Homo sapiens: one gene and its partners. The protein of the gene in region 1 interacts with the protein of each later gene in a pairwise test. Each region holds a gene or a part of one and is shown on either strand. Other genes may lie near its edges.

Region 1 (6,965 bases):
AGAGTCTGGCTCTGTCGTCCAGGCTGGAGTGCAGTGGTGCGATTTCGGCTCACTGCAACCTCCGCCTCCAGGGTTCAAGTGATTCTCCTGCCTCAGCCTCCCTAGTAGCTGGGACCACAGGTGCACGCCACCACGCCCGGCTAATTTTTGTATTTTTAGTAGAGATGGGGGTTTCACCATGTTGGCCAGGCTGGTCTCGAACTCTTGGCTTCAAGTGATCTGCCGACCTTGGCCTCCCAAAGTGCTGGGATTACAGGCGTAAGCGACCATGCCCAGCCGCTGAGTGAGTTTTTGATTTCTGATAAATTGGGATTTCTCCTTCACAGTCTGCAAAGTCTGCAACCTGAGTACTGAGATAATGGACAGGGACAGCTTACCAACTTATTTTATTTTATTTTTATTTTTTTGAGGCAGGGTCTCTCTCTGATGCCCAGGCTGGAGTGCAGTGGCACAGTCTCCTTTCACTGCAGCCTGGACTTCCTGGGCTCAAGGGATCCTCCCACCTCAGCCTCCAGAGTAGCTGGGACTACAGACTCAAGTCACCATGCCCAGCTAATTTTTGTATTTTTTGTAGAGAAGGGGTTTCACCATGTTGCCCAGGCTGGTTAGCAACTTTACTGTTTGTTTCTCTTCACCTATTTGTGACAAAGATTAAAATTCCTTAATCTGTCACAGGAGTAGAGTTTTTTGTTTGTTTGTTTTTGTTTAAAAAAAAAAAAAAAAGCTTGAGCTCCCAACAGCACCAACTGGCTGGGAGGGGCAGGAACGTTACTGCGACCAAAGTGGGAAGATGCCCTGTGTGGGTGAGGTTGTTAGGGTAAAACGGGAGTTTTGCAAATGATAGGATGGGCACTTACACAGAATGAAAATGCAGAGTTGCAAATCCTGCCTCAGGGAGCTAGAAAGGGGAACTGTGTGTGATGAAAGGCGGGTGGGGAGAGGTTCAGAAGATCTAGTCCTGGAGGCCTCATAATTTGCCGCTTAGCTTCTGCTTTCAGCATCTGCTGTGACCAGATGGTGTGCAGTGATCTCTGGCCGGCTAAGCCAAGAAGTGAATAAAACTTCTTCGGTCTTTGTATAGACCTTGTCTGGTAGGGAACAAATTGTCCTGTAGCAATTAGCAATGAACAATTTCTTTTTCTCTCTTTTACTGGAAAAATCTTATCTTTGATATCTAAGTGAACTATGTTGATATCGTGCTTAAATATTGATTGAGGATTTTTCCCTAACCCTGAAATCCTCCCTCCCTGCTACCCCAACCAAATTTAGCCATCCTGAAAGGTTTTTCTTATAAATAGCTGGACTTCTATCCTCAGTGATTCTTCAACTTGAAGAAAAATACCATTGAAAGAGGGAAACCTTTCATGAATTTCTTTTTTCCCATGTTATTTGGAAATTGTTTTTATGATATTATTTAAGTAATATAAATTACCACAGAAGTATAAATAGATGTACCTTTTTTCTTTTTTTTTTTTGAGACAGGGCCTCACTTTTGTCACCCAGGCTGGAGTACAGTGGTGTGATCTCGGCTCGTTGCAGCCTCTACCTCCAGGGCTCAACCCATCCTCCCGCCTCAGCTTCCCAAGTAGCTGGGACTATAGGCGTGCACCCCCACACCCGGCTATCTTTTTTTTTTTTTGTAGAGATGGGGGTTTGCCATGTTGCCTAGGCTGGTCCCAAACCCCTGAGCTCAAGTGATCTGCCCACTTTAGCCTCACAAAGTGCTGGGATTACAGGTGTGAGCCACCTCGCCCGGCCTAAATCTGTGTTCCTATATTTGTAACTTCCATATAGCGATATCAAATCGCATTTATTTATAAATCAAATTCCAAAAAACTACAAAAGTTTAAAAAATTAAAATTATTAATTTATTTTTTTCAGGGGAGGAAAAAGAGTATGTAAATTTGCTTTACATAACTGACTGAAAAATATATTCAAGAAATAGTAAATATAATTTAATACAGTCTCATGTGCCCTAACATCATTAACTTAATGTGACAAGTGATATATGAATGAAATAAAATTACTGGAAACATGAACATTGTGCAGTCAGGTACAGGGCAAACTCCTTTACATTGAGCACCCTGCACCACCATTTGCTGAGCTATGACTGAAGTCTCCCACTATTTTCCTTTTGTTTTCTTCATTCCACCATGGTGGAATGAAGGCGTTGCTTGGCTGTCACTTGGCATTAATACCACACAAAAGCCTGTACATGAATGTTCACGACAGCATTATTAATAATAGACAAAAAGTGGAAACAACCCAAATGTTCCTCAACAGATGAATGGGTAAACAGAATGTGGTATATTCACATAATGGAATATTACTCATCCATAGAAAGAAATAAAGTTTTTTTCTTTTTTCTTTTTTTTTTTTTTGTTTTAGAGACAGGATCTGGCTCTGTCACCCAGGCTGGAGTGAAGTGGCGCCATCTTGGCTCACTGCAGCCTCCATCTCCTGGACTCAAGGAATCCTCCCGCCTCAGCCTCCCGAATAGCTGTGACCACTGGCACACACCATTACGCCTGGCTAATTTTTGTGTTTTTGTAGAGGCGGGGTTTCACCATGTTGCCCAGGCTGGTCTCGAACTCCTGAGCTCAAGTGATCCGCCAGCCTCAGACTCCCAAAGTGCTGGGATTACAGGCGTAAGCCACAACTGTGCCTGGCCAGTAATGAAGCTTTGATACATGCTACAATATGGGTGCGTTTTAAAACATTATGCTAAGTGAAAGAAGTCAGTCACAAAAGACCACATAATGTATGCTTCCATTCACAGTGTATATGAAATGTCCAGATTAGGTAAATCCATGGAAATAGAAAGTAGAGTAGTGGTTGCCAGGGGTTGGGAGGAGGGAGGTGGGTAATAAAGAGTAACTGCTAATAGGTATGGGGTTTCTTTTCGGGGTGATGAAAATGGCCTAAAATTATGGTTAGGCTGGGCGCGGTGGCTCACGCCTGTAATCCCAGCTTTGGGAGGCCGAGGCGGGTGGACCACTTGAGGTCAGGAGTTCAAGACCGAGACCAGCCTGGCCAACATGGCGAAACCCCGTCTTTACTAAAAAAAAAAAAAAAAAAAAATACAAAAATTAGACGGGTGTGGTGGCGCACGACTGTGATCCCAGCTACTCGGGAGGCTGAGGCATGAGAATCACTTGAATCTGGAAGGCAGAGGTTGCAACGGGCCGAGATTGCACCACTGCATTCCAGCCTGGGTTACAAAGTGAGACTCTGTCAAAAAAAAAAAAAAAATTAGTGCTGATGGTTGGCACACTTTGAAAACATAAACAAAGCCGGAGGCAGTGGCTCACACCTGTGATCCCAGCATTTTGGGAGGTCAAACCAGGAGGATCCCTTGAGCTCAGGAGTCCAAGACCAGCTTGGGCAACACAGTGAGACGCTCGTCTCTGCAAAAACTTTGAGAAAATTAGCCGGGCGTGGTGGCAGGCACCTGTGGTCTCAGCTACTCGGGAGGCTGAGGCGAGAGGATCACTTAAGCCCAGGAAGTCCAGGCTGCAGTGAACTGTGAACTCCAGTCTGGGCGACAGAGCGAGACACCTCAGAAAAAAAAAAAAAAAAGAAAGAAAAAACCGAAAAAGACCACTAGAGGGTACATGTTTAAAGGACAGATTTTATGCTATGTGAATATATTTCAAGTAAAAATTAAATTAACAATTTTAAAAATTGCAGGAGTACGCAGCGCTTATAGAGGTCCCTGCATAACCTAGGGAGCGGGATCGAAACCCAGCAGCACCAAGATACTCTAAGAGCAGGACCAGCCACTGCCCCTTCCGCAGGACCGCCATCCTCGCCACGCCTCCGGGGGAGGGAGGTCCTGGCTTGGAGAGCGATGATTGGCCGAGTTCTAGGACGAGGCGGAGCGAAAGGGGGCGCGACAAGTCCCTCCCGGCGCAGCGAAACCTTAGCTCGCGAGATTTTGTTGGTTCCGCATTTCGGGTCTGCGAGGTGGGGTAGGCGGGCAAGGCGGGCGCCGAGGTTTGCAAAGGCTCGCAGCGGCCAGAAACCCGGCTCCGAGCGGCGGCGGCCCGGCTTCCGCTGCCCGTGAGCTAAGGACGGTCCGCTCCCTCTAGCCAGCTCCGAATCCTGATCCAGGCGGGGGCCAGGGGCCCCTCGCCTCCCCTCTGAGGACCGAAGATGAGCTTCCTCTTGTGAGTGGGGTCGGGCCGCGGGCGCCGGGCCTGCGGGCCGAGGTTGTGGGGGAGGCCTCCCCGGACCTGAGGCGAGGGCTCGGCCTGGGGGCCGAGGCGGGGGCGGGGTAGCTGGCGTTTGTTTTGCCTCTGTTCGGGTCCGCGGGGGAGGCCGAGATGTTGGGAGAGGCCGACAGAGATGAAGGTCGAAGTAAAGGAAACGGAGCGTGAAGGCTGGGGAGTAGAAAGGCCCCGGGGCCGTCGCGCCTCCAAACTTTTCCGCCCGAGCGCCCCCGAGGGCGGGGAGACGATCTGGGGGCGGAGCCGCGAGCCCCCAGTTTCTCTTGTCTCGAGCTTCTAGAAACCGTCCTTGCCGACTTAACTCGTTGCTCGGTTATAGGTCCAGTTTCATTATTGTCGGTGTTAAATGCCGCCCCAGGAGAATGTGCGTTGCCGCAGTTTGAGAAGCTTGAAGTTAAGATGCTGGCCTTGGAGTCGGATCGTTCTGTCCAGTTCTGATTCTGCCCACTTACTGGCTTTGATTTTAACCAACTTCTCTTGTCCTCGGTAGAATCCTGTGTTTTTAATCATTATGTAATATACCATACAGCATTATTATATAGTACATTGCAGTATTATAAATAATTTGGAAAGTTAAAACAAATTCATAGTCCCATTGCAGAAACACAGTATTGCCATTTTAGTGCACTACAGCAATTAACTTGATAGGCATACCTTAGAATCTCATTTTAGAGATAATGCCTGAGCCCAACCAAACAAGGCTAAAATGAAAAAGCTTGTAAATTCCCTGATGATTCTTATGCACATTAAGGTTTGAGAAGCATTGCTCTGGCACAGTATTTTTTATTCTCAGGTGTCTCTCTCTACCTTGTATATTGCTTAAATGTGTGTTTTGTGATTGAATAATTATCCAATTTTAGTTATGGATGTAATCCACATGCTTGACATTTTTATTAAATACAATATAAAAACACTATATAGTTTTTTTTTTATTTTTTATAACCAGAGTTTACCCACTTTATTGTGAGAAACTGGGATTCCTTCCAGTATTTACTATTATAAAATAGCACTACTCAGAATATGTTTATCTGCGTCTCATTTTCCTTCCTTTGGGTTATTCTCGTAAATGAATGGTCTCTAAAATACGATTACCTTGTCAAAAAGCCTGTATGATTTAGATTTAACTTCCATATTAATAGAAGTATTCCTCCCTCCTCCACTTTTTTCTTACGAGTTGATATTTAATTAGTGAATGCACAGTTGCTTTGTGGACCTTAATACGAGACTTTTTCTTTTTTTTTATTTTTTGAGACGGAGTTTCGCTCTGTCCTCCAGGCTAGAGTGCAATGGCACGGTCTCGGCTCACTGCAACCTCTGCCTCCGGGGATGGCACGGTCTCGGCTCACTGCAACCTCTGCCTCCCGGGTTCAAGCGACTCTCCTGCCTCACACTCCCGAGTAGCTGGGATTACAGGCGCCGGCCACCACACCTGGCTCATTTTTGTATTTTTAGTGGAGACTGGGTTTCATCATGTTGGCCAGGCTGGTCTCGAACTCCTGACCTCAGATGATCCACTCCCGCACTCGGCCGAGACTTTCTTTTTTTAAAACTTGGCCTTCTTGATGGACACTTGAGTTGTTCCCGCTTTTTGGCCATTATGAATAATGCTGCTGTGAACATATGTGACAGGTTTTTGCGTGGATGTATGTGTTCATATCTCTTGGGTATATACTTAGGAGCAGAATTGCTGGCTTAAGTGGTAACTATGTTTAACCTTTTGAGGAACTGCCAAACTTCAAAGTGCTGCACCATTTTACATTCCCATAAGTACTCTATGAGGGGTCCAATTTCCCCACACCTCTCATAGCACTTGTTAATTTTCTTTTTTTTTTTTTTTGAGACAGAGTCTTGCTCTGTCGCCCAGGCTGGAGTGCAGTGGCTCAATCTCGGCTCACTGTAAGCTCCGCCTCCCGGGTTCACGCCATTCTCCTGCCTCAGTCTCCCAAGTAGCTGGGACTACAGGCGCCTGCCACCATGCCTGGCTAATATTTTGTGTTTTTAGTAGAGACGGGGTTTCACCGTGTTAGCCAAGATGGTCTCAATATCCTGACCTAGTGATCCGCCCACCTCGGCCTCCCAAAGTGCAGGGATTACACGCGTGAGCCACTGCGCCCGGCCTTGCCTGTTTTTAAATTGGGCTGTCTTTTTGAGTTGTAGGACTTCTTTATACATTCTAGATACAAGTCTTTATCACATCTATGATTTGCAAATATTTTCTTCCTTGTTCAATATAGTTTTTTTTATCATGTTAAAAACTTTTCAGATATGATTTTTAGTGTTTTCATCATTCTTTTTTACCTCCTTTTTTTTTTTTTTTTTTTTTTTGAGACAGGGTCTCACTCTGTTGCCTAGGCTGGAGTGCAGTGGTGCGATCTCAGCTCACTGCAACCTCTGCATCCCGGGTTCAAGCAATTCTCCTGCCTCAGCCTCCCAAGTAGCTGGGATTACAGGCACTTGCCACCACGCCCGGCTAGTTTGTGTGTGTGTGTGTGTGTGTGTGTGTGTGTGTGTGTGTGTAGTAGAGGCGGGGTTTCACTATGTTGGTCAGGGTGGTCTCAAACTCCTGACCTCAAGTGATCCACCCGCCTTGCCCTCCCAGAGTGCTGGGATTACAGGTGTGAGCCACTGCACCCGGCTCTTTTTTACTTCTTAATCAGTCTTATTTAAATTCCAAATTACTCAGGTAAAGTAAAAGTCCATAGTTCTATTCCATTCCTCTTCCTAGAAGTAATCACC
Region 2 (7,022 bases), on another chromosome or scaffold:
GGTGCCCACCACCATGCCTGGCTAATTTTTGTATTTTTAGTAGAGATGGGGTTTCACTATGTTGGCCAGGCTGGTCTCGAACTCCTGACCTCGTGATCCACCTGCCTCGCCCTCCCAGAGTGCTAGGATTACAGGCGTGAGCCACAGCACCTGGCCACCTCTGCTCTTTTGGAGCTGACGTTGTGGCGGTGACAGGCAAACGGGTTAGCTGATAACTAGGATAATTTCATGAAGAGGTGAACCAGTGAAGCAGTTAAATCAAGGTAAAGGGTGGCTGGGCGCAGTGGCTCAGGCCTGTAATCCTAGCACTTTGGGAGGCCAAGGCAAAAGGGTCGTGTCAGCCTAGGAATTTAAGAGCAGCCTAGGCAACATAGCGAGACCCTGTCTCTTAACAAACAAACAAACAAAAACAAGGTAAAGTAGCCTGGGCGCGGTGGCTCATGCCTGTAATCCCAGCACTTTGGGAGGCTGAGGCGAGTGGATCACCTGAGGTCAGTAGTTCGAGACCAGCCTGGCCAAAATGGTGAAACCCCGTCTCTACTAAAAAATACAAAAATTAGCCAGGCGTGGTGGCGGGCACCTGTAATCCCAGCTACTTGGGAGGGTGAGGCAGGAGAATCGCTTGAACCTGGGAGGCGGAGGTTGCGCTAAGCCAAGATCGCGCCATTGCACTCCAGCCTGGGTGACAGGAGTGAAACTCTGTATCAAAAAGAAATAAAAAAACGAGGTCAAGTAGTAAGAGAAGCGGTAAGAGTGACGGGAACAGGAGTCATTGACCTCTTGGGAGAGGAGACATTGGAGGTGGTGATGATTTGCTGAAGCAGCCACACACGTTCAGCTTGTGAGGACAGCAGTTGTTAGGCAGGGGATGAGGGAGGAAGCTGGCAGATCTGTGCAGGTGAGAGGTACCTGTGGCCTTGGGCTCATGGAAGTGGGAGGTGATGGGATTCTAATGTGCTTGGGTACAGTTTACAAATACAACCTCTCTTAGTTTGCCCAATACCTCCAAATTCCTGGGGTGGCACACCTGAGGTTCAGGTGGCATGACTGAGCCACAGTCACACATCCCCACTGTAGGATACCACCACGGTTGGGTTAGGTTCCAGCACATGGCGGTCCCGGCCTGGCCTCTTGGTCCCACCTCACCTGGTGACTAGTGCAGACCACTCTGTTCTTGCCTGTTTCAGGCAGCGGAGGAGGAGAAAGAGATGGACCTCCCGGACTCGGCCTCGAGGGTCTTCTGCGGCCGCATCCTGAGCATGGTGAACACAGATGATGTCAACGCCATCATCCTGGCCCAGAAGAACATGTGAGTGGCGGCTGGGGGACCTGAGCGTGGGAAGGAATCCACAGGCTGGCCAACATTCTTGTCTTGCCCGCCCCTACCCGGGGCCCACACTGGTGATAAAATGAAGGAAATGAGCAAATCTGTCGCTGGCTCCAAAGTAAATTCCTTCCCGGCCTGGAGGCGAGGCCTTGGCACAGGAAGCAGGGCTTTGGGGAGATTTTGCAGCTGCGGATGGCTTGGCGGGGGCCGCAGGGGCTCCTGTCCCGAGACCTGGGGTGGGAGAGTTGAAGGACCAGAGGGGGCCACATGCAGGTTTTTTTGTTTATTTGTTTCTTGTTTTTGAGACAGAGTTTTGCTCTTGTTGCCCAGGCTAGAGTGCAATGGTGTGACCTTGCCTCACTGCAACCTCCGCCTCCCGAGTTCAAGCGATTTCTCCTGCCTCAGCCCTCTGAGTAGCTGGGATTACAAGCATGTGCCACCATGCCCAGCTAATTTTTGTATTTTTAGTAGAGACGGGCTTTCATCATGTTGGTCAGGCTGGTCTCGAACTCCTGACCTCAAGTGATCCACCCGCCTCGGCCTCCCGAAGTCCTGGGATTATAGGCCTGAGCCACTGTGCCTGGCCTTTATGCAGGTTTTATGCTGGTGCGCCTACTTCCTGGTGAAGGACTAGTCTCCCAGAGCCCAGGCTGTGTCTGCACAGTGCCCAGGGTCTCTTGGAGCGGACATAAAGGCCTCTTGTCCTCACTGGGGTTTGGTGCTGTGGCTGCTGAAACCTTGCCCTAATTCAGGCCTGCCCTGTGGGGAAGAAAGGCTAATACCAAGCTTGTCCAACCCTCGGCCTGTCCAACCCTTTGAATGTGGGCCAACACAAATTCGTAAACTTTCTTAAAACATTACGAGATTTTTTTTGTGATTTTTTTCTTTTTCTTTCTTAACTCATCAGCTGTCGTTAGTGTTAGTGTATTTTATGTGTGGCCCAAGACAATTCTTCTTCCAATGTGGCCCAGGGAAATGAAAAGACTGGACACCACTGGGCTAATACAGTCTTGGAGTGGAAGCACAGCCTCCCGCAGCTTTGTTTTTGTGTCTCTGAGCCAGAGGCTCTTCTCAGCTGTCACGACACAGTACAGACCTGATTTCCTTACCTTTTCTCCCAGACCCAGAGCAGCTCCGAGTCTCAATAGTACCTGTCTCTCTCCTGTGTCTTTTTTTTTTTTTTTTTTGGGAGACAGAGTCTCACTCTGTCGCCCAGGCTGGAATGCAATAGCATAATTGCTGCTCACTACATCCTCTGCCTCCTGGGTCAAGTGATTCTCCTGCTTCAGCCTCCTGAGTCGCTGGGATTATAGGCATGCACCACCATGCCTGGCTGATTTTTTTTTTGTGACGGAGTCTCGCTCTCTCGCCAGGCTGGAGCACAGTGGCGCAATCTCAGCTCACTGCAACCTCTGCCTGCTGGGTTCAAGCGATTCTACTGCCTCAGCCTTCCAAGTAGCTGGGACTACAGGTGTGCGCCACCACGGCCAGCTAATTTTTGTATTTTTAGTAGAGACGGGGTTTCACCACGTTGACCAGAATGGTCTCAATCTCTTGACTTCGTGATCCGCCCGCCTCAGCCTCCCAAAGTGCTGGGATTACAGGTGTGAGCCACCGTGCCCGGCCCTGATTTTTTTATTTTTAGAAGAGATGTGGTTTCACCATGTTGGCCAGACCTCAAGTGATCCACCCTGCCTCAACCTCCTAAAGTGCTGGTCTCCTTTTTTTTGAGACATAGTTTCGCACTGTCACCCAGGCTGGAGTGCAGTGGCGCAATCTCAGGTCACTGCTATGTCCGCCTCCCGGGTTCAAATGATTCTCCTGCCTCAGCCTCCCGAGTAGCTGGGATTACAGGCGCCCGCCACCATGCCCAGCCAATTTTTGTATTTTTGGTAGAGACGCGGTTTTCCCATGTTGGCAAGGCTGGTCTCGAACTCCTGACCTCATGATCTGCCTGCCTTGACCTCCCAAAGCGCTGGAATTGCAGGCATGAGCCCCCATGCCCGGCTGGTCTCCTGTTTTTTTAGGTCAGATTCAGACCTGGCTCTGGGAAACTTCTAGACTGAGGGGAGACAAAGCCAGACACAGACCCTCCTGGCCCTATGGTGTCAGGGCTGGGCCAGAGGAACAACCTGGGGCTAGTGGAATTAAAAGAGTCTGATTGGGCCAGGCACGATGGCTCACTCCTGTAATCCCAGCACTTTGGGAGGCCGAGGTGGGTGGATCACGAGGTCAGGAGATCGAGACCATCCTGGCTAACCTGGTGAAACCTCGTCTCTACTAAAAATACAAAAAATTAGCCAGGCATGGTGGCGGACGCCTGTAGTCCCAGCTATACTCGGGAGGCTGAGGCAGGAGAATGGTATGAACCTGGGAGACGGAGCTTGCAGTGAGCCGAGATCGCGCCACTGCACTCCAGCCTGGGTGACGAAGCAAGACTCTGTCTCAAAAAAAGTCTGACTGAATAGAGGTAGACAAGGCTACATGAGAAGGACACACTTGAGTAGGGTTTTGAAGGTTGAATAGGAGTTTGCTAGGTGGCTCAAAGAGTAGGTAGAACTCTGCAGGACAAGGGAACAGCCCATGCAAAGGTTGTGAAGCAGGCAAGGGCTTGGCATGAACAGTCTTCTGGGCCAGGTTGGGCAGGGCCCTGAAGCTGGGCAGTGAAGCTCATGCCCTCTCTCCACCATCAGGCTGGACCGCTTTGAGAAGACCAATGAGATGCTGCTCAACTTCAACAACCTGTCCAGTGCCCGCCTGCAGCAGATGAGCGAACGCTTCCTGCACCACACGAGGACCCTAGTAGAGATGAAACGGGACCTGGACAGCATCTTCCGCCGTATCAGGTGGGTGCTCAGTGCCACCCCAGCCCAGCTGACCTCTGCCTCCACCTCCCCATCTGAGCCTCAGTTTCCTTCACATACCAGGGTAAAGGGAGATTTCTGTTTGTTTTACAAGGCTTCACTGCGCACTTAAGTGTCTGGGACAATTCCAACCCTGGGATAAAATCTTGACGTAAGTTTATTTACTGATTGATTAATTGATCGAGACAGAGTTTTTTTTTTTTTTTTGGAGACGGAGTCTCGCTCTGTTGCCCAGGCTGGAGTGCAGTGGCGCGACCTCAGCTCACTGCAAGCTCCGCTTCCCGGGCTCACGCCATTCTCCTGCCTCAGTCTCCGGAGTAGCTGGGATTACAGGTGCCTACCACCACGCCTGGAGAATTTTTTGTATTTTTAGTGGAGATGGGGTTTCACCGTGTTAGTAGTCAGGATGGTCTCGATCTCCTGACCTCGTGATCCAGCCGCCTTGGCCTCCCAAAGTGCTGGGATTACAGGCGTGAGCCACTGCGCCCGGCCGAGACAGAGTCTTGATCTGTGGCCCTGGCTGGAGTGCAGTGGCGTGATCTTGGCTCACTGCAACCTCTGCCTCCTGGATTCAAGCGATTCTTGTGCTTCAGCCTTCTGAGTAGCTGGGTCTACAGACATACTGTACCACACCCAGCTAATTTTTGTTGTTGTTGTTTTATTTTTGAGGTGGAGTCTTGCTCTGTCGCCCAGGCTGGAGTGCAGTGGTGCAATGTCAGCTCACTGCAACCTCCGCCTCCCAGGTTCAAGCGATTCTCCTGCTTCAGCCTCCTGAGTAGCTGGGACTACAGGCGCATGCTGCCACGCCCAGCTGATTTTTTGTATTTTAGTAGAGACGAGATTTCACCGTGTTGCCCAGGCTAGTCTCAAACTCCTGAGCTCCAGCACTCTGCCTGCCTCGGCCTCCTAAAGTGTTGGGATTACAGGTGTGAGCCTAATTTTTGTATTTTGTGTAATTTTTGTATTTTTTTAGTAGAGACAGGGTTTCCCCATGTTGGCCAGGCTCATCTCGAAGTCCTGGCCTCAGATGATCCATCCACCTCGACCTCCCAAAGTGCTGGGATTATAGGCATGAGCCATCATGCCCAGCCTTGCAGTTTATTTATTCTTAAAAAATGTAACACAGTGCGGCTGGGCGAGGTGGCCCATGCCTGTAATCCCAGCACTTTGGGAGGCCGAGGCAGGCGGATCACGAGGTCAGGAGATCAAGACCATCCCGGCTAACATGGTGAAACCCCGTCTCTACTAAAAATACAAAAAATACTAAAAATACAAAAAATTAGCTGGGCGTGGTGGTGGGCGTCTGTATTGCCAGCTACTCGGGAGGCTGAGGCAGGAGAATGGCATGAACCCAGGAGGTGAGCCGAGATCGCGCCACTGCACTCAAGCCTGGGCGACAGAGCGAGACTCCGTCTCAAAAAAAAAAAAAAAGTAACATAGTGCTAGACACATAATGAAAAGGCAGGAATGGCTGGGCACAGTGGCTCATGCCTGTAATCCCAGCAGTTAGGGAGGCTGACGCAGGCAGATCACCTGAGGTCAGAAGTTTGAGACCAGCCTGGCCAACATGATGAAATCCCGTCTCTACTAAAAATACAAAAAAATCAGCTGAGCATGGTGGCACGTGCCTGTAATCCCAGCTACTTGGGAGGCTGAGGGAGGACAATCATGTGAATCCGGAAGGTGGAGGTTGCAGTGAGCCAGGATGGCACCACTGCACTCCACCCTGGGCGACAGAGTGAGATTCTGTCTCAAAAAAAAAAAAAAAATTTATCAGAGAAGAGGCCACATGTAAGAAGCAGCCTCGCAGGGGGAGCCCCCAGCCAGTGCCTAGGCTCAGAGCACCCAGAGTCTAACTAGTTGGGGGTTGGTGCCTACCTTGGGGCTGGAGGCCGGCTGGTGGGCGACTGTCAGGGCCGTGGCTGCTGGGCCGAGCACCTAGAGAGAGTGAAGATGTGAGGTGATGAACAGTGTGGGGGTTCTCACTCCCGTCTCCCCTTGCCCTCAGCTGGCAGCAGGGGCTTGTGGCCAGCACCAGGCCCAGCCTACCTGCTCAGCAGGTTAAGCCCTGTGTGCCTTCTCTCCCCTGCAGGACGCTGAAAGGGAAACTGGCCAGGCAGCACCCAGAGGCCTTCAGCCGTAAGTGTCACGCAGGGTTCCTGCTCCCGAGCACGTCAGCACTCTCCACCCAGGGCAGGCTTCTGGAAGGCCACCTTGGGGCCTGATACTGAGACCAGGCTGTAATGGGCAGTGGGTCTGGGGAAACCTGGGGTGGGGGCAGGGTCAGGGTGCTGGCCTGGTCCTGTCAGCAGCTGGCAGAGTGGGCACTAGGACGGGAGTCCGTGCCCCGTGGGGAGGCCGCACAGGAGAATGTGGATAAGCAGCATGACAATCCTTATCCCTGTGTGCATTATGAGCCATCTCAGAACAGAGCACGGGCTCATGTGACACCAGCCCCGACATCGTCTCGCCTTCCCTGAGCCCCAGCTTCGAGGATCTGTCCCATGTCCAGCTGTTACCCACAGTCACCCATGGGGTGGGGACTGTGAGTATCACCGTTTCATGGAGAGGGAAACAGAGGCCCAGAGGGGCAGGACTTGAGTTCGCATCTGTCTGGCTAGAGAGCTCGCGTGTTCTCTGGGGTACCATTCCATGTTGCCACCACCTTAAAGGGCTCTGCAGGCTGAGCCTGGGTTCACACCATCTGTTGAAAAGGCCGACAGCTCTCCATCCCAGGGCCTCCAACAGCAGTTTACAGAGCAGGGAGCTGGGCTGAGGGGAGGTCATATACCTAGCCCAGGTAGTGCAGTGAGCCAGGTTCGCCCTCAGGG
Region 3 (7,972 bases), on another chromosome or scaffold:
GCCATCCATATATCTTTGGGGAAGTATCTGTTCAAATCTTTTGCCCAGTGTGGTTTTTTTTTTTTTTTTTTTTTTTTTTTGAGACAGGGTCTTGCCCTGTCATGCAGGCTGGAGTGAAGTGGCGCGATCTCAGCTGACTGCAACCTCTGCCTCCTGGGCTCAAGTGATCCTTTCATCTCAGACTCCCGAGTAGCTGGGACCACAGGAATGCATCACCACACCCAGCTAATTTTTTTATTTTTTGTAGAGACGCAGTTTCGTCATGTTGCTGAGGCTGGTCTTGAACTCCTGAGCTCAAGCAATTTGCCAGCCTCGGCCTCCCAAAGTGCTGGGATTGTAGGTGTAAGCCACTGTGCCCAGCCTTACACAGATTTTTAAGATTGAGTTGTTGACCTTCTTCTTATTTATTGTTTTAGAGACAGGGTCTCGCTCTGTCACCTAGGCTGGAGCACAGTGGCACAATCATACCTCACTGAAACCTCCCAACTGCTTCACTCAAGCACTCCTGCTGTCTCAGCTTCCCAAGTAGCTGGGACTACAGAGGTACACCATCATGTCTGGCTAATTTTTAAATTTTTTTAGTTGAGACAGGGGTCTCACTATGTTGCCCAGGCTGGTCTCAAACTCCCAGCTTCAAGCAATCCTCCCACCTCGGCCTCCCAAAGTGCTGGGAATACAGGCTTGGGCCACCGTGCCTGGCCCCTTCTTATTGAACTGTGAGTGTTCTTGTTATATTCTAGATTAGGTCCTTGGTCTGACATATATTTTGCAAATTTCTTCAGTCTATGTCTTGCCCTTTAAATTTTGTAGCAACATCTGTCCCTTACACAACTTCATTTGTCTTCATAGCCTCATCACGCCCTGACACCCGGGTTCACTGTCCATTTCCCCACCCACTACGCTGTGAATGGCAGATGGACCTGACAGCAGTAACTTAAGCATACCCTGAAAATGACCCTTTGGTCTAAGAAGAAAGTGTGTTTGGAGTCTTGAGCTAAGGAATCTGGGAGTGGCCAACTAGGAGTCTCACTTCTTTTCTATGAAGAGATCTGAACCCCTGGCCTGTTGGTCCCTTGGAATGCAGGCCGTACAGGGGATCCAGGCCCTTTGTTGTGGCTTAAATGGAGGTTGCTAGGTGGAGAGGGCTCCACAAAAATTGCTATATAAATTGCATGCTTTTTACAAATGATAGTGTTTCTCCTGTCCAGGCCACTGCCACTGGATCACTTTTGTATCTAAGTCCTCAATAAACTCCATGTCTCATTCACTGGCTCTGGGTCTCTTCTTCGGCCTCTTGGACATGGTGCCATTCTTATTGGAGTCAATAGGGGCCTGGCGCACCATGTTGTCAGCTCCACGAGGGCAGTGCTGGTTTTCCCGCTATGTCCTCGGCTCCTTACACAGCGGGTGTTCAGCAGATATTGTTCAGTGCTCCTGCCAGTCCTCCCGGACATGGCGTGTCTTGGTGGCAGGTGACATGGACTGGTGAGTGGAGACCTCAGAGCAGCCTGTTGCAAAACTTCCAGGCCAGCAGTAAGGGGTCCTGAGCTGGGGCACGGGTGGGGTCTGGGGAAAGGAGACGAGCTGACGGAGAAGGAGGGCCAGAGAGACTTTTCCAAGGTGCAGGCTCCCCTCTTCCCTTCCCCTGCCTGCCATACACACCCCGCCTGCTGCTCAGCAATGGCATCACAGCCCCTCCTGCCAGCCTGCCCGGATGCAGGGAGCAGCAGGAGAGTTTCTACAGGAAATAGACATGGGCATGGGTGGCATGTGGGGAGGCTCTAAAAGGCTTGATTAGCTCCTTTACCATGAGTGTGTTTACAGCATGTATGTGTAATGACACACACAGTGTGAGGGTGTATATTGCATGGTGCGTGTTATCTCTGTGGGGTGTGTTCTTGTACACCGGTGCAGGGCATATATGTGTTATGATGTGGGTTTGTCCAGAGAATAAAGCAACAACTTCCTCTCCAGGATGGGAGGACTGTTATGTGGTCTCTGGTGTCCTTTCTGTCCATTCTTTAGAGCATCCCACCAGGGACCCTGCCTGTGAATCTGTTGGCTCTCTCTTTTCTGACAGTGCAAAACAAAGCTCCTTCTGCAGCCAGACAGACCCTGGCAGCAATTCCAAGCAGATGCCCACTTACCAGCTCGGACTAGTTGCTCTAACGCCTCTGAGCCTGTTTTTTGGTCTGTTAAAGGAGATTAATAACACCTACCACGCAGGGTGGCAGCGACAGTGAGGAAAGGTATGCCTATGAAGAGCTTAGAATAGCGCCTGACACACAGTAGGTGCTCAATTCACAGTAGTGTATATGCCCACACACAGGTATGTACATTCCAAATGCACCAACGCCCCTCAAGATACCCTCAATACACAAATAGATTGAGTCTGGGCTGGATGCGGTGGCTCATGCCTGTAATCCCAGCACTTTGGGAGGCTGAGGTGGGAGGATCACTTGAGCCCAGGAGTTCAAGACCAGCCTGGACTGGTGGAGACATGGTGAGACTCTGTCTCCATGAAAAATAATTAAAAATTTAAAAAATATATTTTAATTTGAAAACTTTTAAAAAGGAAAGATATGGACTAGGTCTGGTCGCTGGGCTCCTGACGACAAGGCTTGCTGTGCACATACATCTTCATTAGTGTGAGCTGTGCTCACGTCGGCTGCGTGGAGGCTGGGACAGACACGGACACCCCACAGTGCCCAGTGATGTGTCACACCCACACATCAGCACCACGCTGACCTCTTGCCAACCTGCCATATCTGCCCCCTTATCTACTCAGAATGGTCAAGGTGCCCAGGGGGCAGTGTCTCTCAGTAATTTTCCACAACCTGAGAAAAAGCTGTGTTTCTCTCAGATGTGGGGAAAAGGGGAGCCCTTGTTCCTGAGGCATCCTTCCTGCTGTCCTTGCTCTTGTAAGGCTGACTGGCTGAGTTTTTGGGTGGAGGGGCTGAGGCTCCCAGCCTATCTCAGATGGTGCTGAATGTGGCTGGAGGTTACGATTGCTTTGGTCCCACCACCCCTCAGAGGATGCCCTGCGCAGAGTCTTGGGTCTGACTGACCTCGGCAGCACCCAGCCCATAAGGTCCTGTTAATCAAAATCCTTGCTGGGGCCTGGGAGCTCCATGAGGGAAGGGGCCACATCTCCCACAGGTCTCGGGCTTCAGCACCCAGTACAGGAGCAGGTGTTCATGAACTGAATTATATATCTTTTGCATTAAAAAAAATTTTTTTTGAGACAGAGTCTCGCTCTGTTGCCCGGGCTGGAGTGAAGTGGCATGATCTCAGCTCACTGCTGCCTCTGCCACCCGGGTTCAAGTGATTCTCCTGCCTCAGCCTCCCGAGTAGCTGGGATTACAGGTGTCCGCCACCACGCCCGGCTAATTTTTGTATTTTCAGTAGAGATGAGGTTTTGCCAGGTTGCCCAGGCTGGTCTGGAACTGCTGACTTCAGGTGATCCACCTGCCTCAGCCTCCCAAAGTGCTGAGATTACAGGCGTGAGCCACCGGCCTTTTTTTGCATTTAAGTCGCACCTCCAGGGGTTGGGGAGCTGTATGCAGTGGTGGTTACATGTGTGGGCTGAGGCATGGAACTACACAACCTCTTGGGCCTGAGCTTCCCCTTGTTAAACTGGAATAACAATGAAGACGCCTTCCTCATAGGGTTGTTCCAAGAACACCATGAAGGAACGCATGCAAAGTGCTCAGGGAGTGCCTGACCCCACATACAGAGCACCCAGGGGCTGCCCTCTTCATCCCAGAGTCACTGCTCCCACTGTTTTCTGGGCTCTGGCCCCCCCTAAAATTTCACAGGCCGCTAACACAACACTACCTTCTGTCACAAAATGAGAGCTTTCTGGTGGGCTAGGGTAGGGGGAGATATTAACAGCCAACTTTAAAATCAGGCAGGAAAAAAAGGTGCCAAGGAGACAGGAAGTAATAAATGACTCCAGGTTGGGCAGGGCAGGCTGGGAAGAGGAAGTGGATTGGGTCTTGTTTAGGTAAAAGACTTCAGTGGCAGACAAAGGAGGAGTAATAAGATCGCTAGGGGGCCCGTGCCCAGCCCACCCACGCACAATCTCAGTCCTCGCAATACCCACAAGGTAGGTGCTAGGATCACACCCTTTACGGACGCGGCACCTGCGACAGGGATGCGCGAGGAGTCAGGGGGCCTCGCCGGATCGAACCTAAGCTGGGGAAGAGTATTTCTTGTATTTTTAGGAGAAATTCTCAGCCTCGGGGAAGAGTATTTCTTGATGAGGGAAGAGCGCGGGGAAGACACTCACGCACGCACAAACATGTGGGCGGCCATGGTGTGCCCAGCGCCGTGCTGGCTTCTGGGAACCCCCAGTGGACAAGACGGACAAGGTACCGGCTCTCAGGGGAAGTGGGAGCCAGTCACAAGCGTACCTAATTTCGGAGAGTGACAAGTACTCTGAAAAAGAAAGAAGGTAGGGCTGGTGACTGGCCAATTTAAGCGGGCAGGAGTCTGCTGGGGGACGGAGACCAGCCTCAGGTCTGGGTTGGGGACAGAAGCTGTGCCTAAGTGTGGTGCAGGATGCAGTTGCAAAGGAGCGCTTCCGATCGCACTTGATGCTCGCCACGTCCCTGCAAAGTGCTCCCGCCCCCTTTCTGCAAATGAGGAAACGGGACGCGCGGCTCGCCGGGCCAGGTAGGGCTAGGACGCGGACTCTAGGCCCAAGCGCTCCCCAGCGCAAGCCCTCCCCCGCACATCCGACCGCGCCTGCGCTGGAGACCCCGGGGGCGTGGCCTCCCCGGTGGGCGGGACCGTGGTCACCGAGGTGGGCGGTGCCAGAGGATCTGGCGGCGGGGCGGGGCGGGGCGCGCGTCCTGGCTTCGCCCTTCCCCGGGGCGGGGCCTCCGGGGACCGCGGGGCCGTTGGTTTCGGGACGGAACGTTCACGCGGCTGGGGCGGGCGCGCGGGGGAAGGGTTTGCGGCGGCGCCGCTGCCGGCTAACGCGGAGGGGCGCCTGGAGGCGGCGTGGCGTCCGCTCTGGCTCCGACTCCGGCTCTCGCTCTCGCTTCTAGCCCGCGTGCCTGCGCAGTCCCCTCCCCGAGAACCATCCCCTTGCCCCGCCCAGCGTCAGGGGTGCGCGGCCGCCGAGAGACCCCGGAGGCGTAGCCGGCTGCGGAGGCGAAGAGGTGGCAGCGCGAGCTGGGACCAGCGTCTCGGAGGCGCCGCAGGTGAGGGGGCGGGGCGGGCCCGCGGTCCCTGCATCCGGAGCCCCTGGGGACCCCGAGATCCTCAGGATCCGCCCCGGCCCCGGGGCCACCCCAGGACTCCCTCTCAGCTCTTCCCCTGGAGCCCCTGCCCCCGAGACCCCCTCAGGATCCGCCCTGCCCCTCCAGGCCCGCGAACCCCGAAACTCCAAGATTTTCTCTGGACTCCGAGACCCCCTGAGGACCCCGGCCGCTAGTGGGCCCTGAGAACTGTTGGTTCCGGAAACTCTCGAGGTTCCCTTGGGACTTGCTTCCAGCAACCTCCTCAGAAGCCCCCAGGCCCGGGGCATCTTCCTGTGGGGAGCCGTGGTTCCCAGTGTCCTTAGCCCCGCGAGACCCCGGGTCCCCGTGCCGCCCACCCTGAGGCTCCCTCTCCGACCTGATCTCAGGGCTAGGTTTCTCCAACTTGAGGTCCCTGGACCTGCGGGGCGTGGGTGGAAGTGTTCCCAGGTCTGGTGATAACTTAAGACGGTAACAGCGCGCCCGACGACCACCTCCTAAGCTGTGGTCCCCGCGCCTGCAGGTGCAGGGCCGGGTTTAAGTTTTAATGTTCTGCTGAGACTCAGGTGGCCCCACAGGACAGTCTATAGAGCAGGAGACCTGAGGTGGCCGAGGGCGGCCGAACCGGGGAGGGAGCGAGTTAGGGCACATGGGGACGCTTTTAGGTTGTCTCCTCCTTAATTTTTTCATTCAAGGAACTAACATTTTGTTTTTGAATGCCTGATAGGCTCCAGGAATTGACACTGGAAATAGAGATGAGACGGTCCCTGCTGTCAGGGCCTAGGGACCTGGGGCATAAGACAAGTAGGTCGTTTTTATCTGGAGGAAGCTGTGTCGTCGCTGGCAGGGAACCCATCTGGGTGGGCATGGGATTCTGGGAAGGGGTGGGTGTTAAGGAGGGCGTCTTAGGAGTCGTGGGGAGGAGATGCTAAGCAGCAGGTGAGCTGATTCTTGAAGGTTGAGCTAGAGGAGAAGTTTGCCAGGGTCATTCCAGGCAGAGTTTCAGGGGACAGCCAGTATGTCAAAAGGCAGAGAGGCTGCCACGGCACACAGTGTTGGAAGGCGGGAGGTGTGGCTGGAGCACACCTAATGAAGGTGGCGTGGGAGTGAATGCTAACTGCGGAGAACCCAGCTTTGCTCCCGGAGGCCCACCGTGCCCTTGGCCCTTTCTTGAACGACTGCACCTGCCATTGTCCTGAGAAATGATCCAGCTGAGCTGAAGGAAGGTGGGAGGTGGTCAGGGGGAGAAGTGAGGGAAGTGTCTCGCTAGAGACCTGGTATGGGAGAAGCTGGGACTTTTGCAGAGTACTGGGTTTGAGGTGGGAGTGACAAGAAAGAGGGTGTGATTCTGAGAGCCAGTCAGGACCAAAGCATGCCCAGTTTAAGCTGAGTGGAGGGTTTGGTACTTAAAGGGAGTGGGTGGCCATTGAAGGGCTTTGGGAGGAGAGGGGCGGGAGTTGGTGTGTTTTTGAACCATCCATGTGGCTGTGGTGGGGAGACTTTTTTGGAGGAAGCAAGACCCTATGAGAGATGGGGGTGACCTGGACCAAGGCGGTGGTAGTGGGGGACTGTGGCTTTCTGGAACGGGGCTAAGCTTCTGAAAGCCCAGGCCCAGAAGACTGGTTCCCGCTCTTTCCTGTCTGAGCCTGGGGTCTGAACTTTAAGTGAGGTTTTTGTCCTATTACCGTAGGGTCTGTGGTCGCCTTAGTGCTTCATGGTGACTGTGTGTGTGTGCTTCACCATAGTCTAATGACCACACAGGACGCAGTGGGGCAGGGTGGGGAGAGGCTGAGTCTCAGAGGTGGGCCAGGACCATGCTGGGCTAGGGGTCCTGAAGAGAACCTGTGTGTGGAAAAACCACCCATCGTGCTTTTTCTATTATCTCACTCAACGACAATCAACAGAGATGTCTTCTGTGACCAAATGTGAGGAGAGGTTTCTCCCTGCCACCAAGCGGGCAGTCATTTGTGCAAGAGACACCAACTGGGTATCTTCCAATTCAGTTCTGATACTACCTGGAGATAGCATCAAATCTCGCAAGTTGAGGGCTCAGTCCCCCAAGACTGCCCTCCACCCCTTCGGACACCAGTCACAAGCCTGAGCCTCTGGAACTTCTGATCGATCAGCTTCAAGTTGGGGTTCCCATGACCCTTCCTTAGGTTTGATTAATTTGCCAGTCGCGGTGGCTCACGCCTGTAATCCTAGCACTTTGGTAGGCCGAGGAGGGTAGATCATCTGAGGTCGGCAGTTCGAGACCAGCCTGGCCAACATAGCAGAACCCCATCTCTACTAAAAATACAAAAAATTAGCTGGGCATGGTGGTGTGCACCTGTAATCTCAGCTACTCAGGAGGCTGAGGCACGAGAATCCCTTGAACCCGGAAGGCTGAGGTTGCAATGAGCTGAGATTTTGACACTGCATTCCAGCCTGGGAGACAGAGCAAGACTGTCTCAAAATTGCTATGGAACAGCTCACAGAACTCAGGGAAACACTCAGGTTTACTGGTTTGTTATGAAAGATATCGCAAAGGACACAGATGAGAAGATGCGTAGGGTGAGGCGTGGGGGATGCTGTGCAGAGCTTCTGTGCCCTCCCCGGGGTGTACCATTCTCCAGAAACTTCGGCATGTTTGTATTTATCTCTCAGGAAGCTCTCAGAACCCAGCCCTTTTATGCCTTTTATGGAGACGACTTAAGCATGTAGGCATGCTTAATTAAACCATTGGC
Region 4 (7,022 bases), on another chromosome or scaffold:
ATGTATTTTTATTTCACCTATATATTTGTGTAGAAGATTGTGGGGAGGAGGGATTTTTTTAAAAAAGACATTCATATCTTCCTTTAGGTATGTTATCTGATTTTGAAAAACATTATGAAAGCCTCAAAAAGCATTTTTACAAAGCAATTTATCAGAAAATTAAAACAAATATACTGAGAATAAGTTGATCACTTAACTGTCAATGAATATCAAATAGTAAACACGTGATTGGAATCAGATCAGTAGGAGACTTTCTAGAGTAATCAAATTTTTGCTGAATTTAGAAAGTCTAAGAGGCCCAATTCTTCCCTACTAAGATTGTGACCACCAATTGGCTGTGTAGGTGCTGGTTAAGGACATGGACGCTTACTGTCTATGATCCCAGTTCCACACTAGCAGCTATGTAACCTTAGACAACTAACATAACCTCTTTTGTACCTCAGTTGCCTCATCTGAAAAAATCATGATATTAGCACCTACTTCATATAGTTGTTGTGAGGATTAAATGAAATTATTCATTTCAAGTGCACAGAATAAAGCCTGGCACATAGTAAGTACTCAATTAATATTATTAGCTGCTATGATGATTACTAATATTATCATTAGATTCAAGGACAATTCCAGTTACCTTTCCTGCAGATCCTGAACCGGCTGGGGGCTCCAGAGAGGAACAGTAGGGAAGAATGTCTGTCCTGAACATCTGTCCCTTCTGCAGCCCCCATTTTCCTCTCCGCCCTGGCGCACCCAGCCTCAGCCCTGCTTCCTGTGGACGTCAGGCAGTGATGCTCTTGCCCTCAGGCCTAGATAAAGGTAGGGTAGGCAAGGCCCAGCCACTGAGCTCACAGAAGGCAGCACCAGGCATCCAGACTGGCGGGGGCACAAGGTATGGTGCCCAGCATACAACACTGCTTTGTACATGGCTATGAAGGAAATGTTTGTGAAATTTAACTGAATTTTTTTAAAAGATTAGGCAATGGACAGTAGATATCTCCAGCTCCAGCTTTACCTGCCCTCTTGTTCTCTCCTCCAAGGTAGCGGGGACTCATCTCTGGAGAAGGAGTTCCTCGGGGCCCCAGTGGGGCCCTCGGTGAGCACCCCCAACAGCCAGCACTCTTCTCCTAGCCGCTCACTCAGTGGTAAGTGTAACCTCCTACCACCTCCTGGCAGTAGGCACCCCCTGTTGCATTTGGCCTTCAATTCACCTTCCACTGGCAACCATTTCCCCATCGTCACCTCCTGCTGGTCTCCTGCTTAGTCTCTAAGAGCAATGAGGAGCCCAGTGTCTAGGGTTTTTCTGGCTTCTGAAAGGAGAGTGAATAGTCAGTCACTGGCAGACTAGGGTGGAATTAAAAGAGGTATGGGTGGGATTAAGGTAAAAGTTTCAAAGAGAAATTATGGAATTAGAGAAGCAGGTAGATAGAAATGGTCATCAGATGGAGTTAGATAGGAAATAGAGAGTAGAAGGACCTCCCCATCTCCCCACAGCTCATTCTCCTACCCAGACAGGGTCCCCATGACTGCCTCTCCCCAGCTGGCCCTAGATCTGTGACATTCTCTAAATGGTTGGAGTAGCCAGGAATGTAGGTCGGAGCTAGAGCCAAAGCCTTCTCCTCAATGGTTCCTCCTTCCTTTACCCCTCCTGCCCTGCCTCAGAGTTTTATGGAGGTGGAGGGGGTAGAGGGATTCAATCTAATGAGGTGGGAGGGAACTGTAAGCATGTCTGTCTTCCAGGTTTGCTCTCTTTGGCCTGTTGTCCCCCTTCAGTCTTCCTAGATCTGTTTTCCCGCCACTGTTAACTTGCTGGCTTCCTGCCCAGGGCCAAGCCAGACATCTTTCTTCATGACAAGAGAGTAGAGAAAAAAGCTCCCCTTAGTCGCCTCCTCTCCTCAGCGACAGAAGACATCCTATGTACCCCCAACTTTTTTCTTTTTGAGATGGAGTCTTGCTCTGTCGCCCAGGCTGGACTGCAGTGGCGTGATCTCAGCTCACTGCAACCTCCGCCTCCCAAGTTCAAGCGATTCTCCTGCCTCAGCCTCCGAAGTAGCTGGGATTACAGGCGTACACCACCATGCCCAGCTAATTTTTGTATTTTTAGTAAAGACAGGGTTTCACCATGTTGGCCAGGCTGGTCTCAAACTCCTGACCTCAAAAGAATCCACCCGCCTTGGCCTCCCAAATTGCTGGGATTACAGGCGTGAGCCACCACACCCGGCCCAACTTTTTTCTCTTGAAGCCTATTTGCCTGGTGGGTGGGAGAAAAGGTTGTCTCAGGTTCCAGTAGGATTCTGATATCAGCAGCAGGGATACTAGGGTGTTAGTTCCATTTAAGGCTTGAATGTCTCAGGGCCTAAAGACACCCTCTTAAACTTTAAGAGTGCCATTCTGGGCCAGGCGCAGTGGCTCACACCTGTAATCCCAGCACTTTGGGAGGCCAAGGCAGGCAGATCACCTGAGGTTGGAAGTTCGAGACCATCCTGACCAACATGGAGAAACCCTGTCTGTTCTAAAAATACCAAATTAGCTGGGTGTGATGGTACATGCCTGTAATCCCAGCTACTCAGGAGGCTGAGGCAGGAGAATCACTTGAATCTGGGAGGTGGAGGTTGCGTCGAGCCAAATTCGTGCCACTGCACTCCAGCCTGGGCAACAAGAGCGAAATTCCATCTCAAAAAAAAAAAAAAAAAAAGAGTGCCATTCTGGCCTGGGAGCAGCTTCCCCCTTTGCCTCTCTCTATTCTAAACACCATCCCACCCCTCAGCCAACTCCATCAAGGTGGAGATGTACAGCGATGAGGAGTCAAGCAGACTGCTGGGGCCAGATGAGCGGCTCCTGGAAAAGGACGACAGCGTGATTGTGGAAGATTCATTGTCTGAGCCCCTGGGCTACTGTGATGGGAGTGGGCCAGAGCCTCACTCCCCTGGGGGCATCCGGCTGCCCAATGGCAAGCTCAAGTGTGACGTCTGCGGCATGGTCTGTATTGGACCCAACGTGCTCATGGTGCACAAGCGCAGTCACACTGGTAAGTAAGCCAGAGGGGCTCTGGGAGGAGCTCCCAGGGTGGGGTTGAGAGGCAGGGGCAGTGCTGGGACAACAGCAGGTATGGGGCTGGAGGAGGTCATGCAGGGAGTGGGTAGCCTCAGAAAGGGAAGGGTCTCACCCAGCACATTTTCCAGCTGACAAAACGAGGCAGGGTGGGGGTGGGTACAGAATTTGAATTCCCCTCAATACCTTTAGTTTCCTGGCACTCTCCTCAACCGCTGTTATAAAGAAAAGGTGATATTTTTCTCAGTATATGAGGGAGGGGAAAGTGTAGACTCAAGAATGAGCCAATGGTCCAATAGGGGTAAGACTCCTGGGTATTCTTTGGGCCCTCCCATCTAATAATTAAAAAACAACAACAACAACAACAACAACAAAACAGAAAACAAAAGCCTTCTCTTCTCAGCTTCCTTGGGCCTTGGGCTCCTAGGGCAGAGTGGGCCCTGTGGGGCTCAGTTTTTGGTAACAGTCTTTTGGCCTCGTGTTCCAGGCCCCTCTCCCTGCCACACACCTCTAATCCACACCTTCCCCAGGGTAAGACCCCAGGGATCCCCAAGGGATCTTCATAAATCAGGGTTTGTGTGCATTGCACTTCTGCCCGTCAGCAATGTGTTCAGAGCACCTTCCCTTGGGCAAGGTAGGGCAGAGGGTGGGTGATAGGTTCAACCTTCAAAGTTCCTCACATGCAGTCCTCTGGGATTTGTTCTTTCACTTGCAGGTGAAAGGCCCTTCCATTGCAACCAGTGTGGTGCCTCCTTCACCCAGAAGGGGAACCTGCTGCGCCACATCAAGCTGCACTCTGGGGAGAAGCCCTTTAAATGTCCCTTCTGCAACTATGCCTGCCGCCGGCGTGATGCACTCACTGGTCACCTCCGCACACACTCAGGTCAGTGTCTGTCCAGTGGGAGGAGGGAATGAGGCTCCAACACACCCAGTATGTAGAGCTCAGTGACTTCTCTTGTATTTGGGGAGTTCCAGTGTCTGTCATTGAGGAGGGGGGAGCATTTACAGAGCAGATAGGGCCCCCTGCCTCTCTCACCCATCCTCTGGGCAGCAAGGCTTCATGGGAAATTTGGGAGACACCTTGATGGGGTATTTTACATCCACCATATGGATGTAAAATCCATCTACTTGGAGCAAAAGGAATAGGAGCAATGTTCTTGGCTGTTAACGGTCACCCTTGGCCTGGCGCGGTGGCTCACGCCTGTAATCCCAGCACTTTGGGAGGCCAAGATGGGCGGATCACGAGGTCAGGAGATCGAGACCATCCTGGCCAAAATGGTGAAACCCTGTCTCTACTAAAAATACAAAAAAAAAAAAAATTAGCCGGGCATGGTGGCAGGCACCTGTAGTCCCAGCTACTTGGGAGGCTGAGGCTGGAGAATGGCGTGAACCCGGGAGGCGGAGCTTGCAGTGAGCTGAGATCGCGCCATTGCACTCTAGCCTGGGCGACTGAGCGACACTCAGTCTCAAAAAAAAAAAAAAAAAAAAAAAAAAAAAGTCACCCTTCCCTGACTTTTGTTTGTTTTTTGTTTTTTCAAGACGGTGTCTCACACTGTTGCCCAGGCTGGAGTGTAGTGGTGCAATTTTGGCTCCCTGCAGTCTTGATCTCCTGAGCTCAAGCCATCCTCCCACCTCAGCTTCCTGAGTAGCTGGAAGGATACTGCCACACCCAGCTAATTTTTCTATTTTTTTGTAGAGACAGGATCTCCCTATGCTGCCCAGGCTTGTCTTGAACTCTTGATCTCAAGCAATCGGCCCACCTCAGCCTCCTGAAGTACTGGGATTACAGGCGTGGTGTCAGCCACTGTGCCTGGGCTTTCCTGACTTTTATATTTTAGATTGTTGATGCCACAATCCATGCCCTATTACCCCCAACATCTAAGCCCCTGGGAAATCCCTCCTCTCACTCCCATCTGCCTCAGGCCCCACACCTGTCATCATCTTCACCCTCCTTCCTCCCACACCACCAGAGGTCTTGAGCAACCAGTCTGTCCTCTCCTTTACTTCCTTCTGGCTCCTGGAAATATCCATAGCCCTCTCAAATTGCAAAAAAGGGAGCCTAGGACTTCCAAATAGGAAAAGAGTATCCTATTTCTGTTCCCTATCCCAAGAGGTTGTCACCTTCCCAGAGGCAAGAGAAAGTCCAGAGGGTACCTAGAGATCAATGTTTGGAACAGTGCTGGGAAACTGGATTAACAAGGTTTTCTAGCCCAGTCAAGACTGTTTGAATCAGTATCTGTCTGAATCAGCTGGACAGATAGCACTTTTTAGGCATTTTACTAAGCTTTAGGCTTTTGGCTTGGACTTGGGAAGAGGCCAGGAGCTGAGCTGGCAGGAAGGAGGGAGCTCAAGATTGGGAAAAGGCAGGAAGAAAGGAAGGGGGAAAGAATTAGTAGGGTCTGTCCTTGGAAACTTTCCTGGCTATTTTTCTCTTCTTAAACTCTCCTGAGCCAGGATTTAAAGGGACAGAGCAATCATTTCATCACCCTCTACTTTCTCCATCCACTTACCTTGTTCCAGGTTCTCCCACCTTGTAATTGGGACCTCTTTATCTCTATGTATGTGGAGAAACAGGGAGAAAGATCATCGTTGATACATGCTTTATATCTACAGAGCATTTCACTTGTGTTTCTCCATGTGATCCTCATAACAATTCCAAGGTAGATGTGATTATCCCCATTTTGTTGACAAGGAAAATGAAGCTGTTGGGGGGAAAAATGAGTTGCGGGTCACATAGCTATTCTTCAGCCTAGCTGGAACCCCATCAAGGTCCAGTGCCAGAAATACATACTCCTTTTCCTCAGAAAAGGGGCTGCTCCCCCTGCTGGTTTGGAACAAGGATGGCTTGGCCCCTAGAATTCTTACCAACTACACAGTGAGGTGAACTGGGTAGATTTTGGATGTTGATCTGTAGATTATTAACAACAGAAGCAGACACAGATATACTGTCAGGTCCCATCTCTGTGAAGTGCTTTCTGTTGCAACCCCTATTATAAGAAAAAAGAGACTGGATGCATGTTCTCACTCATGTGGGAGCTAAAAAAGTTGATCTCATAGAAGCACGGAGTAGGTTGGGTGCAGTGGCTCACGTCTATCATCCCAGCAGTTTGGGAAGCCAAGGCGGGTGGATCGCTTGAGCCCAGGAGTTTGAGACCAGCCAGAGCAACATAGTGAGACTTCGTCTCTACTACAAAAACAAAAACAAAAACAAAAACAAAAACTAGGTGTGGTGGCACACACCTGTAGTCCCAGCTACTCAGGAGGCTGAGACAGGGAGGATCACTTGAACCTGGGAGGTCAAGACTTCAGTGTCCTGTGATCATGTCATTGCACTCCAGTCTGGGTGACAGAGTGAGACCCCATCTTGGGGAAAAAAAAAAAAAAGCCAGGCACGGTGGCTCACGCCTGTAATCCCAGCACTTTGGGAGGCCAAGGCGGGCAGATCACCTGAGGTCAGGAGTTCAAGACCAGCCTGACCAACATGGAGAAACCCTGTTTCTACTAAAAATACAAAATTAGCCAGGCGTGGTGGCGCATGCCTGTAATCCCTGCTACTCGGGAGGCTGAGACAGGAGAATTCCTTGAGCCCAGGAGGCAGAGGTTGCAGTAAGCCAAGATCGCGCCATTGCACTCCAGCCTGGGCAACAAGGGTGAAACTCCGTCTCAAAAAAAAAAAAAAAGTAGAGAGTAGAACAGTGGTTACCAGAGGCTGACTGAGAAGGGTTGGGAGTAGGTGGATAGCGAGAGGCTGGTTAATGGGTACAAGATTACAGTTAGATGGGAGGCATAAGTTGTAGTGTTCCACAGCATAGTAGAATGACTGTAGTTAACAATAATTTATTGTATATTTCAAAATCGCTAGAAGAGATTATTTTGAATGTTCCCAATACAAAGAAATGATAAATGTTTGCTGGGCATGGTGGCTCACGCCTGTCATCCTAGCCTTTGGGAGGCTGAGGCAGACAGATCATGAGGTCAGG

What was found.
Region 2: the proteins of MOB1A (region 1) and KXD1 interact in binary tests that used the Homo sapiens proteins (3 or more experiments, as listed by UniProt).
Region 3: the proteins of MOB1A (region 1) and FAM118A interact in binary tests that used the Homo sapiens proteins (3 or more experiments, as listed by UniProt).
Region 4: the proteins of MOB1A (region 1) and IKZF4 interact in binary tests that used the Homo sapiens proteins (3 or more experiments, as listed by UniProt).

Annotation. Positions count from the first base shown.
Region 1 is NC_000002.12:74,175,865-74,182,829, reverse strand, and holds the start of MOB1A (MOB kinase activator 1A), read left to right. Parts: upstream 1-3,950; 5' UTR 3,951-4,155; coding exon 4,156-4,169; intron 4,170-4,515; exon of another isoform or gene 4,516-4,575; coding exon of another isoform or gene 4,576-4,715; intron 4,716-6,965. UniProt on the Homo sapiens protein: Activator of LATS1/2 in the Hippo signaling pathway which plays a pivotal role in organ size control and tumor suppression by restricting proliferation and promoting apoptosis.
Region 2 is NC_000019.10:18,560,849-18,567,870, forward strand, and holds part of KXD1 (kxDL motif-containing protein 1), read left to right. Parts: intron 1-1,187; 5' UTR 1,188-1,208; coding exon 1,209-1,309; intron 1,310-2,917; exon of another isoform or gene 2,918-2,931; intron 2,932-4,020; coding exon 4,021-4,173; intron 4,174-4,285; coding exon of another isoform or gene 4,286-4,346; exon of another isoform or gene 4,347-4,361; intron 4,362-6,283; coding exon 6,284-6,330; intron 6,331-7,022.
Region 3 is NC_000022.11:45,304,974-45,312,945, forward strand, and holds the start of FAM118A (protein FAM118A), read left to right. Parts: upstream 1-4,960; 5' UTR 4,961-5,210; intron 5,211-7,972.
Region 4 is NC_000012.12:56,024,023-56,031,044, forward strand, and holds part of IKZF4 (zinc finger protein Eos), read left to right. Parts: exon of another isoform or gene 1-973; coding exon of another isoform or gene 974-1,031; coding exon 1,032-1,136; intron 1,137-2,758; coding exon 2,759-3,019; intron 3,020-3,757; coding exon 3,758-3,925; intron 3,926-7,022. UniProt on the Homo sapiens protein: DNA-binding protein that binds to the 5'GGGAATRCC-3' Ikaros-binding sequence. Transcriptional repressor. Interacts with SPI1 and MITF to repress transcription of the CTSK and ACP5 promoters via recruitment of corepressors SIN3A and CTBP2.